3 linked regions of the Homo sapiens genome follow. The protein of the gene in region 1 interacts with the protein of each later gene in a biochemical or structural test. Each region holds a gene or a part of one and is shown on either strand. Other genes may lie near its edges.

Region 1 (7,032 bases):
GTCCCTGGGAGCGCCTGCCCGGTCCCAGTCGGAGCAGCAGCTGTGGCCACAGGTCTCTCCTAACACCCTAAGGAGCCTGGCATTTCTCCAAGCATGTCACCGCCAACATCTGGGGAGCCCCACACAGCTCTGAGCTCCCGTTGGCCCTGCTTTACAGCCGGGGAAACGAAGGCTGGGCATGGCCACTCAGCCTGAAGGAGGAGAGCTCAGGCTCCATAAAGTTCCATGACGGCCCAGCTGATGGTGGGTGAGGTGAAAAGTCCCTGGGGGAAGGGCGGACCTTTCCTGCAGGAGTCTTGAGTGGGGAGGGGTCCCCGGCCCAAACCCTACCCAATTCCAGGGCTGGGAAAAAGCAACGGATTTGGAGTCATGAGGTAAAACCAAGTATCTGTCATCTATTAGTGGTGCGATCTAGGAAAAGTCACTTTATCTCTCTGAGCCTGTCACTTACTCAGTAAAATGGAAGTATTAAATAGTAGCGCATACCTCCTTAGGGCTGTGACGAGGAGAAGGCAGGTTTACGTATTTGCAGAGTGCTGCACTGGAGGACGTGATCCTTGTACTGCCTGCCTAACACTTGTAAATGTACATTTTGTGGCGCACCTTCCGTGGGCCAGTCCCTGTGCTTGGCGCTCATTGAATCCTCATGGCACACCAGTCTGGGTCAGGAGGCAGAAAAGAGCCTGGACCTCAGCTCCTTTGGGAATTTCAGTCCTGCCTACCCAACATGACCCAACAGGACCAGCCGGACTGGCTGGTCAGCACCTCCCCTCAGCCGGGCCCTCGTAGGCTGTCCCACCTCCAGGTTTCTGCTCAAATGGGTCTTTCTTTCAATTTAATTAATTAATTAATTATTTTGAAACAGAGTCTCACTCTGTTGCATAGGCTGAAGTGCAGTGGTGCGATCTTGGGTCACTGTAACTTCCGCCTCCCGGTTTCAAGCGATTCTCTTCCCTCAGCCTTGCGGGTAGCTGGGATTACAGGTGCCCCCCATCCCCCGAACCACACCCGGCTAATTTTTGTATTTCTTTACTAGGGACGGGGTTTCGCCATATTGGCCAGGCTGGTCTCGGACTCCTGACCTCAAGTGATCCGCCCTACTTGACCTCCCAAAGTGTTGGGATTACAGGCGTGAGCCACTGCACCCGGCCTTCAAATGGGTCCTTCTTTCTGAAATACTTTTTTTTTTCTTTTTTGAGACAAGGTCTTGCTCCGTTGTCCAGGCTGGAGTGCAGTGGTGAGATCATGGCTCACTGCAGCCTCAACCTCCTGGGCTCAAGTCATTCTCTGCCTCAGCCTCCCGAGTAGCTGGGACTACAGGCATGAATCTCACATCCGGCTAACTTTTTAATTTTTTGTAAACGTGGGGGTCACACTATGTTGCCTATGCTGCTCTGGAACTCTTGGACTTCGGCCTCCCAACGTGCTGAATTACAGGTGTGAGTCACCAGAAAGGGCTGAAATCCTTTTTTCCCCCTTAACTTCTTATTTTCAAACTATGGACTCATAAGAAGTTGCCAAAATAGTGAAGAGAAATCCTGTGTACCCATCAGTCAGCTTCCCCCAGTGGTGACATATCATGACATGGATTTAAATTCAGCATTAGCCACCAACCTGGGACAAAATACATAACTTTCTGAGCCTCAGTTTCTCCACCCATAAAAAAGGGGTGATTGTCCTGGTGTTGTCAGGGTGGAACAGCATATGCATAGCTGGTGCTTGGAGAATATTAAGTCCCTGGTAATGGGTGGTGGTTGCAGCTGTCACTGGATTGTGCCTGTTGCCACACCTATCCCGGGGTGGTGCTGGTGTGTCTTACCACAACACTATAAACTGTTCAAGGGCAAACCTTCATGTCCTATGGCAGTGCCAGCACAGGGCCTGGTACTCAGCAGGTACTGAATGAATATGAAAATATGGAGCCTAGGCCAGGCACAGTGGCTCACACCTGTAATCCCAGCACTTTGGGAGGCTGAGGCGGGCGGGTGGATCACCTGAGGTCAGGAATTCAAGACCAGCCTTGCCAAAATGGTGAAACCCCGTCTCTACTAAAAATACAAAAAAATTAGCTGGGCATGGTGGTGGGTGCCTATGGTCCCCTTACTCGGGAGGCTGAGGCAGGAGAATTGCTTGAACCTGGGAGGCGGAGGTTGCAGTGAGCTGAGATCGCAGCATTGCACTCCAGCTTGGGTAACAGACTGAGACTCCGTCTCAAAAAGAAAAAAAAAAAAAAGAAAACAAAACAAAATATGGAGCCTGCTGCCCAGCAAGCTCTCCCCTGGCTCATGGTGCCTCTTTAATTTTGCCTTCCTGCTGGCCCCAAGGTGCAGGGCAACCCCCAGGCAAACCCCATGAGGGCGTGCCATGATGAGGGAGGCAGCCACACTTGACCCCATCTGTTGCTAAGAAGACTTCCAGGGTCCCTAGGACCTCAGAGGTCCCTCAGGGCTGTTCCTAGATTCAGTGGTGAGGCTGCAAGGCTAGGAGTTTGCATTTAGGGGAGAAACCCTATGCTAGAATAGAGCCCACAGGACAGCTGGCTGGAAACAAGCCAGGCAACTCCCACACAATGGAAAAAGCACCAGCCTGCTGGCTGGGAGACCCAAGCTCAGGTCCTGACAAGTCTCTTAGCCTCGCTAAACCTCAGTTTCCTCATCTATAAAATGAGGTCACCATGTGGGTGATGGAGCTCATTGTGCAAACAGCACTATGTTAACCACCGAGTCCTGTATTCACATAGGCAAGGGATTATCTTTGGTCTTGCTGTAGAGCATTTATAAGCTAACATTTCTGAGCACTGCATTTTGTTCGGCTATTTTCAGATGCATCATCTACATTAACTTGTACACTTTGGTGAGTTGGGGATTTTTATCTCTAGCATGCAGGCAAAGAAACCACCCTGGGGCCATGCAGAGATGCAATTCAGAACCCGCGTCTGCCTGACTCCGGGGTCCATGATTCTATACGACAGGATGCCGGCTGGGGTTGATACAGTGCCCTTCCTAGGGCTAAGTGTCTAGTGGCTGGGTCTCTGCTGCGTACAGCCAGATGCCCTGCTCCATAACCTGTAAAGCCTCAAGGAACATACATAAAGTACAAGCATGTTTAGGCTGGGTCCTTAGTGTTCAATTTACCCAGTTTTCCAGAAAGGAAACTAGGGCCAGAGAAAGGAAGGAACTTGACCAAGATTCCCCAGCAAGTTAGGACCAGAGCTAGTTCTCAAAGTCCACACCCACCTCACCCCTCCTCAAGGTTCCTTCTCCTCCCCAGGCTGCAGGGGCCTAGATTCCCAGAGCGGAATCAAGGGAGGTGAACTCGGGTGCCCCCCAACCTCAGGGCTCACTGGGAAAATCCAGGGACTTCTCAGGGTACTGGGGAGCCCCTGAAATGGGGGTCTCATGTGTAGGACGTAACCCCAGGCTGCAGAGCAGTCAGCGTCCCCAGGCTCAGTCTTGTCAGGGGACACCATGCCCACCCCCTTTGTCCTTTCTCTGGATCAGTGTTTTCAAAGTCTAGGGCACATACACAAAACTATGCAAAATTGATTTAGGTGGTCATTGACTTGGCATTATATACCACTATATTACATGATGAGGAAGTTATGCATACTCTTTATTTCCCTTTCAGCCTTTCTAATTACAGACTTGGAGGAGGAAATCTCCCATGGGGTTAGTCTTTAAAGTCTCTCTGACATCTACAGCCCTCCCTTTTGAGGAAAGGGAAAGCAGCAAATGCATCTGGCTAGAATTTAGTAACATTGTTTTATTTCCATTATGTTTATTTTCACCATTATAATCATGATGGTGATTTATAATGAATGGCTTTCCATTTAAGGGAGTGATATATAAAGTTTCTTCTCAAAATAAATGTATTTGCATTTTAAAACATCAATTAAGAAAGAGTAGCCAGGCATGGTGTCAGGCGCCTGTAATCCCAGCTATTTGGGAGGCTGAGGTGGGAGGATCCCTTGAGCCCAGGAGTTTGAAGCTGCAGTGAGCTGCACCACTGCATTCTAGCCTGGGCGACAGAGCGAGACTCCATCTAAAAAAAAAGAAAAGAAAGAAAGAAAAAGGAGGGAAATTACGTTAAGTAAATTGTCAGGTGGATGACACCTTGGCCAACACTGGGAAGGTGGGCTGGAATAAAGTGCTCCGGGAAGAGCTATGCTGGATAACTTACCATGCTCTGAGTCTGGAGAAGGGCCAGTGCCGAGGACAGGATGGAGGGCCTGGAGGTCTTGCTAGCTGAGGAAGTAGATACAGCCTGGGGATCCCAGCCCTACCAGGGGGCTGCTCAGGGCAGGCCTGAGCACATGGCATGGATGTTAAAGCTCATGGTGTCCCATCTGTGGTCCAGGCAGGGAGAGGATGGCCACGCACCTGGGAGGTCTACACTCCAAGCTCCTGTCCTAAAGGACAGTTGGGGCCACCTGTTTATTCCTCCTTGCCCCAGGGAGAAGTCTGATTCCTTAACTCAGAATCTAACAGCTGGGTACTGAATTTAATTCTTGAGTGTTCTATAAATATAATAAATAAAGCCTTAATAAATGTGGTCTGAATGAGGAGGGCCATGGGCAGCATTTCTCACTCATTCTAGATCCCTCTGTAAAGTTCGAGCTCCAGCACCCTAGGAGCTACCCCGTTCCATGGCCCCAATACGGTGAAGGCCACGCTAACTGTCATCAGTCATTGACCTGTGGCCAGAGAGCCAAGCTAAGCCGGGAGAAAGATGCAGAAGCCTGTCATAAATTATTTATGTATCTATGAGATGAAGTCTTGCCAGGCAGGAAGAATGTGAAAAGAGGTCAGAATAGAAAAGTAAACATGTGTGTTTAATTCAGTCCAATCAAACAATAAGGCCAGATGCACGGCAGATGTAGGGGATTAGGTTTGTATAACTTGGATTCAGAGTTCATAGGTCAAGGAGCCAGCCCAGTTAGAGGGCACGGACTATCAAAAAGGGCACAAGCGCATCCATCAGCAACACAGGGGAACCATATCTTATGTTTTGGCAAAACAACAAAAACACCGACCTCAGCTCAGTCCACTGAGATGGAAAAACTTCAACCTGCTTGGCATAACCCAAGTTACCTGCAATGGCGCCATTGTTTCCTCCTTGGTAAGTGGCTTTTAAACCCAGGAAGATTAGAATTTAGAAAATAGAGATGATTAAATAAACAAACACTCATAGTATATATCCAATGGTGTTAAATGTAAGTTGGGTCAAGCTCCGTGAGTTGCATAAAGTCCTATATTTGTGATATTTAAAAACATTTGGCCATTGAGTTCCTCATGAATGTGAGCAGGTAATTGACTTAGGTTCAATTTTGAAGTAGAAAATTTAAGAGAATTTGACAATATCTGTAAACATTAGAATATTTAAGAGAACTTGATATTCGCTTTAATAACTCAGAAACAGAAAGTCAAACACCACATTCTCACTTATAAGTAGGAGCCAAACAACGTGCACACATGGACATACAGAATGGAGTAACAGACATCAGAGATTCCAAAAGGTGGGAAGATGGGAGGGGAGTGAGGAATGAAAATTACTTATTGGGTACAATGTACAACACTCCAGTGCTGGGTACACTATAATCCCAGACTTCACCACTACGTAATATATCCGTGTAACAAAACTGCACTTCTACCCTCATATCTATAAAAATTTTAAAAATAACTTAATATTCACTTCACTTATGCTAGTTTTTTAGTTCTAAAAGCATTTTCTAAAATTCTTGGGAACATTTTGTTTCATGCTCTATAAAATATGGAATTCATCATATTTATAAATGTGCTTAGAATATCAAAAGCAGTGTTATCCAATATAAATATGATGCAAGTTACGCATGTAATTTTAAATATTCCAGGACAACCCTCCCCCTACTTTTTTATTGAGACAGGGTCTCCTTCATCGCCCAGACTGGAGTGAAGTGGCACAATAATGGCTCATTCATTGCAGCCTCAAACTCCCGGGCTCAAACCATCCTCCTACCTCAGCCTTCCGAGTAGCTGGGACAACAGGCTTGTACCACCACTTCAGGCTAATTTTGTATTTTTTGGAGATACGGGGTTTTGCCATGTTTCCCCAGCTGGTCTTGAACTCCTAGGTTCAAGCGATCTTCCTGCCTTGGCCTCCCAAAGTGCTGGGATTACAGGTGTGAACTACCACACCAGACCAGAAACCCCATTTTTAAAAAGTAAAAAGGAATATGTAAACTTAATTGTGATAATAGAATTCATTTAGCCCATCATATCAAAAATATTATAAGTTCGACATATAAATCACATAAAATTTGTTGAAATATTTTACATTCTTTCTTGAAACTCATCTTCAAAACCTGTTGCATATTTTACACTTTACACATCTCAATTTGGACTATCATCACATTTTAAATGCGTGATTGTAGGGGCTACCCTATGGAATAGCACAGAACCAAGGGAGTTTGATTAGCTACATTTGTAAGGGTATTTATTATTTAAGGATGCTAGGTCTGTTCAACTTCATTTGCTCAAATATTAAAGGCCCATCGAAAGTCATTAATCAAAATTACAGGGCTTATAAAATAAAATATGATTAGTATGTTGAACTCACAAGTTAAGAAAAAACAAATTATTAAAAAATTGTTAATTAAAGAATTACTATTTTTTTCAAAAGTAGCCACAAACAGCCTTTTCATACACAAAGGCAGCCCTCGAGGACCTCGCCAGCCAGAGCACAGCTGGCATTAGAGTCACGGAGCTCAGCACTGCCCTGGCGGGAAAGGCCTGGGGCTTTGTTACTGCGTCATAGTGTCAGATCTGGACAAAAGCTTTCTTATAGATTGTCTGACAGAGCACCCCCCTTCCACTGATGAGAAAACATGGCTGAGAAGAAAAGAAGCACAGTCAATGGTGAATTAGAGACGGGACCAGGGCAGAACCTGGGGTCTCATGATGCCACCCCAGCCTCCCCTGTCAAGGGCTCCTAATTCATTCTCTCTGTTCCTTCATCCTTAGTTGGCTGATCAGGAAACTGAGGCGGAGAACTGGA
Region 2 (7,032 bases), on another chromosome or scaffold:
TTTATTTATCCTACAGTCCTTCTTCATTTATTCATTTGTTTGGCATCTATATTGTGCAAGCCTTAAGTGCTGGAATTAGGAAGTTGAAAACCCTGCCTCAATGAACTTTTCCTCTATTTGTAAAGACACCAAACTTAATAATTAAGAGTATGACCACATAAAACCTGCATATGACACAAGCATAGGGATCCTGGTAGCCATCATTACATGAGACTAGGAAGCTTCCTGGAGGAACTGACCCTGGAGCTGGGTTTTGACACATAAATGGGTATTTGCTAAATGATAAAGGTGGGAAAATGACAGCATATGCATAGGCATGTAAGTATTACTCTACAGAAGGAATCTGGAAAGTAGAACAGACCACAGTGGATACAGGCAGTGATGAGGGTTGAGACATACTGTAGGACCATGGCTAAAACGAACTCAAGGCATACTGCAATTGGGGGAGGGGGAAGGATATTAATCTGAGAGCTCTGGGGAGTCACTGAGAAGTTTTTGTCACATTTGTGTTTTAGAAAAATATTTCTGGCAGCAGTTTGGAGGGCAGTTTATTTGGGGGTGAACAGAGAATGGTGGGCAGACAAGAGAAATACTATTTTGCAATTCATTGGAAAAATACTACTTTGAAATCCATCGCAGGAATAGAGGCAATGAGGAATGGTGGCATAAACGTAGGCAGTGTCAGAAGGCAGAAATCAGATCAAAACAAAGATTAAAGAGCTAGATTCTCTAAAACCTCGTTACTGATTGAATAGGGTAAGAAAGGAGTGGACTGGTGCATTTTTCTCAAGCTTTCTCAAGATGAATTGGCCAATTTTTTTTTCTTGAAATGGACTCGTCTCTCCTTTCCATTTAGCACTCTTCTTCTGTTCTCTGAAGTCTTCCTAGAGCAGTGGTTCTCCACTCGTAGTCCTCAGATCAGCAGCATTAGCACCATCAGGGAATTTGTTACAAATGCAGAGTGTCAATCACCGTCCTATACCCACTAAATCAGAAACTCAAGGCCAGGGTGCAGTAATCTGTGCTCTAACAAGTCCTTCATGTTCTTCTGATTTACACTACAGTTTGAGAACCACTGTCCTTGGGCACCTGAGCCCTCAAGACTCTTAATACTGAGTTCCTAAGACTTTTACCCTTACAACCTTGCATTGGCAATTTCCTTCTGATGTAGGTGTCTTGTTTCTCTACTGGAGTAGTACACTCCTTGAATGTGAGGACTGTCTTAAACTGCTTCTTTGTGCTTCGTGTTTTCACCATGAAGCCCACTGTGGCTTCTTAAAAGCCATGACAAGTGCACCTTACACAGCCAGCATGATAAAATCATTTTCTTCGTATCCATTCAAGAACTTCTCCGTCTACCCAACTCTGCATGCCTCATACTCACAGATATTTCTATTCTTTCTGAAGCCAATTTCCCAATTCTTATTACTTATCTTGATGTTCTCTCCTGTGTTGTACACCTACACTTACACTAATATGGTTTATTTCCAATTGAATATTTCTAACAGAAAGAATTCTGGGCCGGGCTTGGTGGCTCACACCTGTAATCCCAGTACTTTGGGAGGCTGAGGTGGGCAGATCACCTGAGGTCAGGAGTTCGAGACCAACCTGACCAACATGGTGGAACCCCACCTCTACTAAAAATACAAAAATCAGCAGGGTGTGGTGGCATGCGCTTCTAATCCCAGCTACTTGGGAGGCTGAGGCAGGAGAAGCACTTGAATTCAAGAGGTGGAGGTTGCAGTAAGCTGAGATTACGCCACTGCACTCTGGCCTGGGCAACAGAGTGAGACTATGTCTCACACAAAAAAAAAAAAAAGAAAGAAAGAATTCTGCCTTCACCTAAAAAAGTTTGATTTTAGATAAGCTATACATAATGAAATATTAATTTCTTGGGTTTAAATCAAGTTGAAACTTATTTCCCAAGTTTAAGGCAAAACTACCTTTTAATATTAGGGCAACTTTGGAAGAATTTCACTTTTGTTCTCATATAAGATATTGTGCCCTAGGGAACCAAAAAAAGAAATGTAGGTGAGGTGATTCTTTCGAAAGGCTCAGCAGGCATTCCTGGCTTTTCTCTAAAATAGATGTAGAAGTGCTAGGTTACTGTAGAACACATGCCAGTATCACAAAAATTTTAGATAAATTAATAATAAGAAGAAAATCCTTTATTGCATTTTCCCCCCAAATATCTTCAGCTCTATGTTTATATTGTGATAATGACCATATAATAATAATAATAAAGTACTTAATAATGACAATTTAATGTGTGATGTAGCATGCTATTTTTGATTTGTGATTTCACTTACTCTCTATAACAACACTATCAGTTAGGTATTATATTTTTCCCATTTTAAAGTAAGAAAACTGAGATGTAGAGTAATTAAGCTACTTTTCAAGAAATGGTAATTGATAATGCTGGGACTAGAATTCCAGAATTTTTGCTTCTAATCATTAGATTATCTTGGCACCTGTCTTACAAGGAAAGCACAGCAATGGAGAAAAAGATTCTATTCTAATATCTACAGCTAATTTAGGGCAAGACTCTGTGCCTCACTTTACTAACTAAAATAATGAAGTTAGAACAGATGACCATGAAGATTCCTTTGTAGACAAATACTCTGTTTCAAATACACAATTTAGTTAAGTAAAATGTCTTGTAATACAACATCCTATCAAACTTATGCAATTGATCTTATTATTAAAATAAATTTCTTCATTAAAATGGTAATCTCTTATTTAGAAAGCCAGTTAAAGTCTATATTTGTCTGTCATTCATCCAGAAAATAAGTTATAGATCTTATCTTTAAAGAACTTAGTGTGTAGTGGAATTCAGAAGAGACACTCATAGATAAAATGTAGAGAGTGAAAGATATTATAGGATGGATAAATGTTTATTCATGCTATGGTCTCCTAAAGAGGAAGAGATTATTTGGGTGCCATCAATTTGGGGTGCAGACTGGAAGCAGAATTCAAAGAGTAATTGGATTGGGACCTCAAAGATTAATAGCATTTGAATATTATTTCTAATACATTAAATAGCATAATTATATATTGAATTACTTACAGTAAATATCAAATACTGCCTGTTCAGAATGAATTGTTTTCTGGCCAGATGGTCCATAATATGTCACCGAGCAGGTGAATGGCATTTGTATGTCAGCCTTGGTTGTCTTGTACTCCAGGGTGGAAGTCATGGTATAGAGCTGAGTCACTGGGTCCATTTCCTTTTTAAAAATTATGACCACCGCTGAAGAAAATAAAGAACACTGATGATAGGGTCTTTCATCTGACAATCACAATCCTTAACGAAACAGCACCACACCTTTGAGAAGTGTTTTTTTTCCTTCTAACTGTATTCAGCAGGAGAGAAAATTGACATGTAGTGAGGTTAGATGTCGTTTCAAAACCGTGAATCAGAGACACAGAAATAGAATCCTGGAATCCCTTTTCCCACTCACTTAATTAACTTCTAGATCATGCCATATACAGAAATTATTTCCTCTGCTCTTGATTCTTCTGTACAAGGGCTGAAAATGATGTTTAAAAAATCATGTATTAATTTAGTACATACTTAAAGTAACAGAGCATAAGAGTCATAGCTCAAAAGAGGGCAACATATTTAGATCCTGAATAGTTTAAAGCGGGGGTCTCCAACCTCCAGGACTGGTATGGGTGCAAACAGCAGGAGGTGAGCGGTGGGCAACCACAAGAAGCTTCTTTTGTATTTACAGCCACTCCCCATGGCTCACATTACTGACTGAGCTCCTTCTCCTGTCAGATCAGTTGTGGAATTACGTTCTTACAGGAATGCAAATCCTGCTGTGAACTGCACATATGAGGGATCTAGGTTGCATACTTGTTATGAGAATCTGATGCCTGATGATCTGTCACTGTGTCCCATCACCCCTAGATGGGACTGTCTAGTTCCAGAAAAACAAGCTCTGGGCTCTCACTGATTCTACATTATGGTGAGTTGCATAATTATTTTGTTATATATCACTATGTAATAATAATAGAAATAAAGTACACAATAAACCTAATGCCTGTGAATCACCCTGAAACCATCCCCCCACCCTGATCCAAAGAAAAATTGTCTTCCATGAAACCAGTTCCTGGTGCCAAAAAGGTTGGAGACCACTGGTTTAAAGAATACCTAGAACAAAGAAAGTCAGAACAGGTCCTCTGAATGTACTCCCTGTCCTCCTGCCCTCACACCCACCTCCTTCAAGGGGATGTAGCACTTTTCCATTCCTGTACCATGTGATATTGCCATCTGGATAACTGTCTTCTGAAATGCAGTCACCCAACTGCAAAATAAAAAGGCAATGTTATTACCTTGGTTCAATCAGGGGCTGTCAATTTGGAAACTCCAGAAACTCAGGCAATGCAGAGTTATTCCAAGGGTTTCTTGACCCGTTTATTTTCCAACACTGACCAAAGACTGAATACATGCTCTCTGGTATAAAAACAATGTCTTTTTAAGACCTTTTTAACAATTTATTTGAAAATATACTTTTGACGATTTTTAAATGTGCAATAGATGGTGTCACTATTATAAAATCACATTCATTTGAAAGCATTGCCAAATTCATTTTGACACTATTCATTTTTAACATTAACCAAATAACATTACTCTATTAACACTGACTATTACCATGAATCATAGATCTTCATACGGAAGAATAATTTGGTGTTAAAATGGGGCTGTGTCTCCAGTTTCATACTACATATATTTCAAGAGGATATACATTATCATGCTCTATAATTCCCCTCACTTTCTTTAAATGTATTTTAACTTTAATATTTGGTATTCATCAAATAATTTTATGCAGTAAAATTTAATATGACACAAAGAATGTAGGACTTGGGTTTCCATCTCCCAACAAAGGAAAACTTTGGTATTTTAGTTACATTATTATTCAATATGGAACTCCAACTTTGTCCCCCACTTTAATACAGCTTCCCTTCACATATCTGCTAATGTGTTGTTCGAATCTGATCTCACCTCTTTACTTCAATCTTTCAGTAGCATAATTTGCCAACAGAATAAAGTCCAAACTCCCTATTTAGTATGTAAGATTTGTCATGATCCAACTTTTCTTTGCCTCTCCAGATTCATCTCTTTCTATCCTTTCTTGTTTTCTGTCTTGGCACCCAGTTTCATCAATGCCAAAATTTGCTGTTTCCCAAACACACCGTTCTCTTTCACATCCTATTATTTCATATTGTTGGAAAGCCATTTCTACCTTTGGCTTGGTGAAAATCTATTCATCTTTCATCATTCTCTCTATATATTTTTTCTACACAGGGTCTGGCTCTGTCGTCCACAATGGAATGCAATGGTGCAAACATGGCTCACTGCAGCTTTGACCTCCTAGGCTCAAGCAGTCCTCCTTACCAAGCATCAGCCTACCAAGCAGCTGGGACCACAGGCATGTACCGCTATGCCCAGCTAACTTTTAAATATTTTTTATAAACAAGGTCTTGCCATGCTGTACATTCCTGGGCTCAAGTGATCCTCCCACCTTAACCTCCCAAACTGTTGGGCTTACAGGCATGAATCATGCTAACTGGCTTCATCCTTCTATTAAACAATCCATTAATTCAAATGAGAAAGACTCCTCTTTTCAGAAATGACCCCACCTTCCTTGATGTCCTCATGGTTACCTGAGACTGTGAGCATGTTGTACCCTCTGTGCCTTGTAGATAATTTCTGATTGGTAGCTGCAACACTGTCATCTCCACAAGAGCAAAGCCTTTCTTACTTGTCTTGGAATGTAAGGTCAGAAGAAGGCACTTACAACACTGGCTAAATAAAGGTATTAATCAAAAACAATTCTTACCTTTTTTAGCTGCTCTGTTTCGAGAAACAGTGCTTTGCTTACAATTTCAGGTTTAGATGGTTGCTCTAAAGTTAAGCAGAGAAAGATTTTAAGTACATATGTAAGAAAAACGGGACTTCTGTGATTTGATTCACAGCAAAAACAATTCATTTACTCAATACAGAAGAATAAGCAACAGAATAAAAATAGATTTCGTTATACAATCTGGATTTGGGGAATCTATAGGTCTACCCCTTCAAATATTTATTATCTTAAATATTATTTTCAGTGCTTGTAATTCCTTTGAATAAAATATAAATAATGCTTTCTGAATGCTTTATAAATAGTGAATATGGATTTGATAGTGAAACAGGGGCTAATGTCCTATATAGGATATATTGTCTCTAATTGATTACCATGAGCACTTCTTACTTATCAGTAACTTCCAGCTCATTAACTGAAGACATTAATTTACATGAACCAGAATCACAAAGATACTTGTTTAAAATTCAGATTTCTGAGCCCTATTTGGCCTACTGAATCAGAATTCCTGAAAAAAAAAAATCCCATAACTCTACATTTTAAACAAGTTTCTAGGGGATTCTCAGTCACCATAAAGTTTGAGAAACACTGTTCTAAAATCATGGGAAATAGAAAGCAAGTTAAGGAATTTATAAACCCAAATTTCTGAAATATCTCTAACTTTACCTCTTAAGCCAAGTCACAATATGAAAGTGTAAATGTGAGAAAATCTTTCAAATGTGGAACCTGAGATGATGGACAAAAACATTTTAAATATAGGTAGTTCTAAGAAACATAAATTTTAATAAAGACTTCAGGAGCAATTGATTAAAAGTTGCAGCAACAATTTATTATTTAAACTGATTTTAAGTTATTTTATTCTTAGCTGCTATTTTCTATCAATGATGGATTTTGCGCTTTTTAAATAGCTCCAACAATTAGTTTACACAAAAAGTATATTGCCTCATTGTCACTGATGTTTGTGAGTCTCATGGACCAAAATTATTCTATTTTCTTATAAGCAAATGTATTTAAACAATCAGCTACTTTTTCTTTTATAGTCTTATTGTTTACCACCTAATACTTTTAATTTTGATTACCAAACTAAACTAAATTGGCTTTTGTATAATTATTACTCAATTTGGAATTCAGTTATTAGACATGTTACCTCCCTAGATCATTATAG
Region 3 (7,849 bases), on another chromosome or scaffold:
TTTGTAAACACCTACAGTAAGCAGTTCAGTGTAGCTTCAGAATAAGGAATTTAAACATGAGTTAGAATACAGACCATTTTAATCGGCTGTTAATTGGTAGCTTTTCCCTTTAACAAAGAGTAGCTATCCGCTGCACTATGCTATTCTAGGCCCACCCAGCAATCAGTCCAGTTGTCTGGGTTCCCAGGAACACTTCTGAAATGTCTGCTCATAAAGGTCCCTGACCTGTGCGCAACCGTCACAGAAGAAGACTACTTCCTGAGCCCCTAGGCACTGCCCTACACTGCTCCTCAAGTAACACAAGAGGCAGTCTACTTCCTGTCCTTGCTGAAACACAGAGCAGGACTTGAGGAAAGCCCATTTGCCAAAGACAAATTCAGTGATGCTAAGTTGGAATAAGGGGAACTGGTCCTTTCCTAGGATTTCTTTCTCATCATAGCTCCCTGGCATCAAGGAAGGTAGAGTTACTTTCTGCTTCTCATGACTGATCTTCCCCCCTACGGAAAAGCTGAACAGTTCAAAAGAGAACACATGACACTTGGTCAATAGCGAACTGGAAGTATACAGCAAGCACAGCCTAGACTGGTTCTTAAGTTACCCACTCAGAATTTAATGAGAAGATCCAGTTCAGGCACCAGACACAAGGAGCTACCCTTGAGTGGGAGCCTGTGTCCCAAACGATCACAGGAAAGAAGAGCTATGTTTGAGATCAGTTACCACAAGTATCAAGTACATAAGTTTACAAGCCACTTGGCATTTAAGGTCAACACGAGATTCTGAAGGCATACTACATGAACAAAGGTCTTGGCTGCAGTTAAGGTTTAGAGTCTGGCTAATGAGGGTTCTATGTAAAAAGGTACCTAAATTATACATGAGACCAGCATTAGCCTCTTGACCTCACTAAGTGAAAAGTCTTTGTAAAGCACCTATGCATATTTGTAGTACAGCGAACTATCATAGTTTAAAGACCGCTTAACAGAGCGAGACACCTATTCTACTTGGACACAGCTAGTTTTCGGGGTCAATCCATCAGGCGGTACTCGTCCTCTTCTGCTTCTTACGTAACTTAGTGAGGCATCCTCCTAGCACTTCTAAGTGCTAAATATTCAAGGACCATCATCAAACTTCTCCCCAGAATCTGGACTAAGTGCTGATTTTAAACATCACCTCTAAATATTATGAATTTAGGAAGTTGCTTAAGTCCCCCAAAGATCAAGGATGGGGTATGATCATCTTTAGAATGAGAGACCCTACCCTAAGGATTGAGAGTCAATGTCTAAAAGGGAGACTATTGTTGTAGAAAAGTAAATGATCATTATTCAACTTTACCTTTTATGGAAACACACAATTTCCTAGTATGAAATGTTTATAAACTTGAGGTAGGCCAGGCGCAGTGGCCCACGCCTATAATCCCAGCACTTTAGGAGGCCGAGGCAGGCGGGTCACCTGAGGTCGGGGGTTCGAGACCAGCCTGACCAACATGGAGGGACCCCCCCCCCCCCACCACCACCACCACGAAAAATACAAAATTAGCCGGGCATGGTGGCGCATGCCTGTAATCCCAGCTACTCGGGAGGCTGAGGCAGGAGAATCGCTTGAACCCGGTAGGCAGAGGTTGCGGTGAGCCGAGATAGTGCCGTTGCACTCCAGCCTGGGCAACAAGAGCGAAACTGCGTCTCAAAAAAAAAAAAAACCTTAGGTAAACAAATCAGAACTTTGGAAGCTGACGAAAGCTTTTTCTTCTCAGGCCCTGTGCCCAAGTAGTTAATTGTATCAGTCTCATTTTCTTCAGAATTAACTGAGCCTTCTCCCATTTCTTCCCCAGAATCCTAGAGACAGCCTGAGTCACTGAGGTCCAGGTGTCCTCATTGCGCAGCAACCCAATTCCCAGAGTCACTTTACAAACATTCCGCAGTCTCTGGAACCCGCATGGCGAACTTGAAGGGTAAGGCTGAAACCTAAGTCCCAGCCTCCACCATGCGTCCCCGACTCCCTGGACCTGAACGCCTACTGCTCAGAGGGCAATCGTTTTAGTGTTTCTATTTGAGCACCCGATAATTCAGAATAAACTCTCAAACATGTTGTGAAAGCCCCCCGGTAGGGCTCTGCACGCTAGGACCAACATTTTGCCACACCCACCATTTCCTGGGCACAGACAGTCTGGGCAGGGAGGGGCATTTGATTCGGAAAAGCTTAGAGTTTGCAGTCTTTGCAAAGCCGGGTCATGCCCACTCAGGCCATGGGGCAAGCACCATTTTCTGTGGGATCAGCAACCAGACAGCGGCTGCAGCCCGGCCGCAGCTGGTCCCGGTGGAAGAACTCATTCGCGCTCCACAGCGAGATCTCCTCCAAGTCCAGCCTCAGCTGATGCTCAAAAGGGGCCGGGCCAGCCAAGCTGTGGGTCCCGGGAGGCGCCCTATGCAGTCCTGGGAAGTCCCTTCGCTCCCCCGCGGCCGTGATCTGGGGAAGGGTGACGGGGCTCCAACCCCAATTAGAGAAACTGGAGCGGCCGTCTGGTTTGCTGAGCGAGCCCCTCCGCCTCCCCTCGCAGCGGGACCTGGTGGGACTGGGGTGACCAGACTGCGGCTCGTCACCGGATGGGGCTTACTCTGGGGCCGCAGAGCGCAGGCGGCGGAGGTGCGACGGCGGCGAAGCCCACGAGGCTCCGCAGAAGGTGGCCCGTGCCGCCCCGGGGACGTGTGTGGGTCTCGTAAGGTGCTGCCAACCTTCCCCGAACGCCAGCGCCCTCGATAATCAAAGGCGACTGCCCCGGGCCCAGATCGCTGCCCGCCGCCCCGCTCCTGGAGGGCAGAGCACAGGCTGTGGGGCTCTCCGCGCGCGCCCCGGCCCGGTCCCGGGGAGCCGAACCCTCTCCGGACCGCGCCCCAAGCAGCGCCCGGGCGCCCTCTCCCCTGCCCGGCCGGAGCCGCGTCCCCCGCGCCCCGCGCAGCTCACCGCTCGTTGGCTGGCTCCGGACGGCTGCTGGCGAGGAGGTGCTGCGGGCGCCGGCGGGGCGGTGGCTCCGAGCCTCAAATACTCCCAGCCCCGCCCGGCCCGCCTCTCCCGAGGCGGGGCGGCGCCCCTGCCCAGCCAGTCCTCTCCCCGGACCAGGCTGGGCGAGCCCCGCGCCGGCCAGACACCCCGAGCCGCCGCCGCAGGGGCGACCAGGAAGCTCCCGACGGGGAGAGCGCGGGCACTGAGGGGCGCGACCTCCGCTGCCACCGTTAGGTTCCGTGGCGCTCCCGGGACCTGGGCTGCGGCCGCGTCTGTCCCCCGCCCTCTCCAGAATCACCTGAGTGAAGAATTCGCTGAGAGGAATTCAATTAATAGGTTGCTTTATTTGTAGAATACAAAACCAAAAATCTTTTCAATGTCTATTCCCTAGGGAACTGACTACAAATTGACTACTTATTCTAGATCAATAGGCCTAGTCTCAAAGCAATTCCCTTATAAAGCAATTAATCAGACAACTCTTTAACACATTTTACACAGGAAATTCACATTATATATATATATACCCTCCTTTTAACTTCACCTTATCTTTTTGTTGGAAGAAAGAGATAAGTATTATTATCTCATTTTTACTGTCAGGGTGCTATAGTCTGAATGTTTATATCCCGCCAAAGTTCATATGTTGAAATCCTAACCCTCACGGTGATGTATTAGGAAGTGGAGGCCTTGGGAAGTGATTAGGTCATAGGGGCAGGGTCCTTATGAATGAGATTGGTGCCCTAATAAAAGAGGCCGGAGAGAGACCCCTTGCCACTTCCACCTTGTGAAGACACAGCCAGAAGGCTCCCTCTGTGAACCAGAAAGCAGGCCCTCACCAGACATCAAATCTGCTGGCCTGGATCTTGGATTTCCCGACCTTCAGAACTGTGGGAAATAAATGTATATTGCCTATAAGCTACCCAGTTTATGATATTTTGTTACAGAAGCCCAAACAGACTAAAAGAGAAAATGATTTACTTATCCAAGCTCACTCATGTCTAGGAACAAAATCCAGAAATCCTGGCTCTTACACTTTACCTGGAAAAGCACCAGGCCAAAGAATCCTTGCAGGTTGGAACAAGGATCTCTGAGGAAAAAAAAAAAAATTAAGGGGGGTAGGGGAAGAATCTTTGCAGGGACTGGCTTATGTAAACTATGGAGAAAACCAGGTATCATCTGGTTCCTAAATAATTCCTGTAGCCCTTATAGTAACCAATTAATAACATAAAGATAAATTATTTCCTGCAGTTTTTCAACTTAGGGAAATGTTCCTGTGAAGGACTCACTTGATGGAATTGAGAAGCTGTCTTGGCATTCTCTAGGATAAACTTGAAAGTGTCTTAGTGGTTGGCACGGTTCCTGCAACATCGTCCCCTCTAGGCTTGCACATAGAAGTCACAGTGTGGCTGGGGATTATTTATGCAAGTTTGAACTCTTATCTGAAGAGGTAGCCTGGCAACCAATTTATTTGAATGGATCACCCATAGTAAATGACTAACCTCTGGGTAGTAAAAAGGTATCACCCAAAGGAATGCCCTTGGTCTCCAGGGAAAATGCTATAAATCTTAAGACTTTGAGTCATGAGGCCTCATGGCCAGGAGTGGTACCCTTAGAGGGTTAGCCATTGGTAATAAGAAAAGTAGATAGCCAAATGAATTGCTGTGGAGGCAAGGGATGAATCACACTCTTGCCTTTTCTTCTGGTCATTTCAGAGATAGACAAAGTTCATGCCCTGGCTACTTAGGGGGCTTGCTTACACCTGATTGTATGATCAGACATGCTTTTGGCTTCCCTTCCTTACTTGTACATCCCCATGAATACTTTGGTGCCAACTTCATGCCCCATAAAGCTAACAAAAGGATCCTGCTATGATCAGGGTGTGCCTGGGAATTTATAATTTGTACACATGCAATAAACGGCTCTTTATTACCCAATCCAAAGTCACATCCCTTTTCTAAGATAAGCGTAAAAAGGAACCCAATAAAATCAATTAAGATATCATTGAGTAACTTCTATGTACAGCTCACTGTGTTATTTGAAATAGGGACAAGGCAAGTGTTAGCCCTCAAACAAAAAGGCTGTCTGGTTTCTACGGATGCAGAGATTGTAAGCCGCTGATAAAAGCAAGGATTCTAAGAGAGGCATCTCCACAGGAGGGAAAGGAGGAAACTTGGGAAAGCAGGTGGCTGTCCAGAAGGTCAGGAGGGAAGCTGCGTGAGAACTTCAGTTAGAGCCAGAAGAGAGTAGGAGATGAAGATGAGAACAAAAAGGGAAAGTCTTTAAGGATAAGCAGAAAAGAGAAAGAAAGACAGTAATTGGAGAAGAAAGCAGAGCCGATTATTTATTTATTTATTTTATTTTTTTGAGACGGAGTTTTGCTCGGCTCACCGCAACCTCCACTCCCAGGTTCAAGTGATTCTCCTCCTGCCTCAGCCTCCCCAGTAGCTGGGATTACAGGCATGCACCACCACCCTGGCCAATTTTTAGTAGAGATGGGGTTTCTCCACGTTGGTCAGGCTAGTCTCAAACTCCCTACCTCAGGTGATCTGCCCACCTCAGCCTCCCAAAGTGCTGGGATTACAGGCGTGAGCCACTGCGCCCGGCAGCAAAGCCAGTTTTTTAAAGTCACCTTTTAAATAGGAAAATAGAACCAGAGAGAAAGGAAAAAGAGAGGAGAATAGAAGAATTATGAAAATATAAAAAGTGAGTGAACCTGGAACAAGCCAGAAAAGAGGAGAGAAATTTCCCAGAAATTAGCACTACAGTGGGCCAGATAGGGAAAGAATGTCTCACAAAAGCTGAAGTTCCTATGAAATATAAACAAAAATCTTGGTATTAAGTCGTGTAGACAGCAGAATACAGGAACAGCCAGAAAAGAGCAAAGCGGCTGCTTTCCAGTTTTCACATTTGGACCCTGGGCAGCCCAGGCAAGTTTGGCAATTCTGTGTCTACATGGTGTTAACACATCTGGGTGACAAGTGAAGAGTTGAGTCAGGCCTCAGGGCACTTGGTCTTTCTGGTGCCAACAACTGGAATCTGGGTGGCTGGCAGACTTAGGGACTGAAAGAGAGGCTGAGTGTTCTGGGGAACCATTTATGCCTTGAAGACAAAGTAATTTCCAGTTTCAGAACGAAATGACTGTGGCTGTCTGCTGTTTCTAGTCCCAGTTATCTATATGTACTTACTCATATCCAAGGCCTTTAGTGGGGGCCTAATATATGCCTCAACTATTTTGCAAAATCCACCCCTTCTAGCTTGCTGAATGAACAGGCTCACCAAAACCTGGTCAACAAATGAAATAGGGTTGGTGGCAGTAATGTGCCCAATGATGGTTTACAAGGTCTTACCACCTGGGTTGCAACTAGAGCCCCCTGGGACAGAGTGAGAGCCAGAACCTGCTTAGAAGGGAGCTAGCCCCTCCTGCCTTGGATGGGCAGGCCAACAGCATCAGGGAGAAGAGGTGTCCCAGGTGCCACCGCAGGTGCAAAACCCCTTCTCCAGCCCAACCTCAGCCCTGGCCACCTCAGCCTAACCTTCCTTGTTTGTCCTTCAAGCCTAACCCAGGCCTGTCTTCAGCACTAGCCATCACCAAACCCACATTCCCACCAGTCACTTCTGTCTATAGACAGGAAGTGGCTGCTGCCACTACTACTGCCCTTATTGCAGCCACACCCAGGGCTACGCTCTTAACCACGCTACAGCATTAACCTGCCTCTTGAGGAAGTATAAAACCAGGGAAAGGGATAGAGAGTGTGCCAGCTTGCTAAGGCTGCCATAACAAAGCACCAGGAACTGAGTAACTTAAATAACAGAAATTTATTTTCTCCCAATTCTGGAGGCCAGAAGTCCAAGATCAGATGTTGGAAGGGTGGGTTTCTTCTGAGGCCTCTCTCCTTGGCTTTTACGTCTCTCTATATCTTCACATGGTCTTTCTTATATGCCTGTCTGTGTCCTAATCTCCTCTTGTTAGAAGGACACATTCGTATTAGATTAAGACCTCATTTTAACTTAATTGCCCCCTTAAAGGCCCTATCTCCAAAAACAGTCACATTCTGACGTATCCGGGGCTCGGATGGTACTGACATAAATGTTTTTGCAAAGAGAGAGGGACACAATTCATCCCATATCAGAGAAGGGCAGGGGAGGAGCTGGCTGTCAGTTCAGCAAGTGTGGTCAGCAGAGATTTCTCCAAGGAGGTGGTATTTGAGCTGAGACCTAAATAAGGAGTAGGGGCAGGCTTGTAAAGATCCGAGAAAGTGGGAATGGCAAGAATAACACTGTGAGTTGCAACAGGGACCTGTGCCAGCATAGACACCCATGGGGCACCTCCTGTCCACTCCTCTCAGAATCCCCTCCCTGCCATCCTCATAAAGTGGCCCGGCAACCGAGCTAGCACTTCATGACCTCTCACCTTAAGTGGAGTTGGGAGAATTGTGGAGTCCTAATTGGGGGCTGGGGGAAGTGGAGAATTGGGCTGGTGGGATCAAGGGAAAGCAAAAAGAGACAGCAGGCTGGGCGCGGTGGCTCACGCCTGTAATCCCAGCACTTTGGGAGGCAGAGATGGGTGGATCGCTTGAGGTCAGGAGTTCGAGAACAGCCTGGCCAACATGGTGAAACCCCATCTCTACTAAAAATACAAAAATTAGCCAGGCATGGTGGCAGGTGCCTGTAGTCCAGCCTGGGCAACAGAGTGAGATTCTGTCTAAAAAAAAAAAAAAAAAAAAAAAGGCAGATAAGCTATAAGTCTGCCTTTCTTCATGGTCCAGGACACATAGCCCTCTTGCGCAAATAACTCACAATCTGCCTGCTCCCAGCTCTCTCTAGACCCTTGGCTGATAGAAAAAATGCACGTTAGCTC

The links. The genes of interacting proteins can lie anywhere in the genome.
Region 2: the proteins of CD6 (region 1) and ALCAM form a complex in vitro, tested with the Homo sapiens proteins (4 studies listed by BioGRID and IntAct).
Region 3: the proteins of CD6 (region 1) and LGALS3 form a complex in vitro, tested with the Homo sapiens proteins (one study listed by IntAct).

The regions. Positions count from the first base shown.
Region 1 is NC_000011.10:60,974,666-60,981,697, reverse strand, and holds part of CD6 (T-cell differentiation antigen CD6 isoform 1 precursor), read right to left. Parts: intron 1-7,032.
Region 2 is NC_000003.12:105,530,881-105,537,912, reverse strand, and holds part of ALCAM (CD166 antigen isoform 1 precursor), read right to left. Parts: intron 5,912-7,032; coding exon 5,847-5,911; intron 4,311-5,846; coding exon 4,223-4,310; intron 3,251-4,222; coding exon 3,068-3,250; intron 1-3,067. UniProt on the Homo sapiens protein: Cell adhesion molecule that mediates both heterotypic cell-cell contacts via its interaction with CD6, as well as homotypic cell-cell contacts. Promotes T-cell activation and proliferation via its interactions with CD6.
Region 3 is NC_000014.9:55,124,407-55,132,255, reverse strand, and holds the start of LGALS3 (galectin-3), read right to left. Parts: upstream 3,005-7,849; 5' UTR 2,956-3,004; intron 1-2,955. Other genes in the region: uncharacterized protein LOC124903319, read right to left, coding at 7,152-7,206. UniProt on the Homo sapiens protein: Galactose-specific lectin which binds IgE. May mediate with the alpha-3, beta-1 integrin the stimulation by CSPG4 of endothelial cells migration.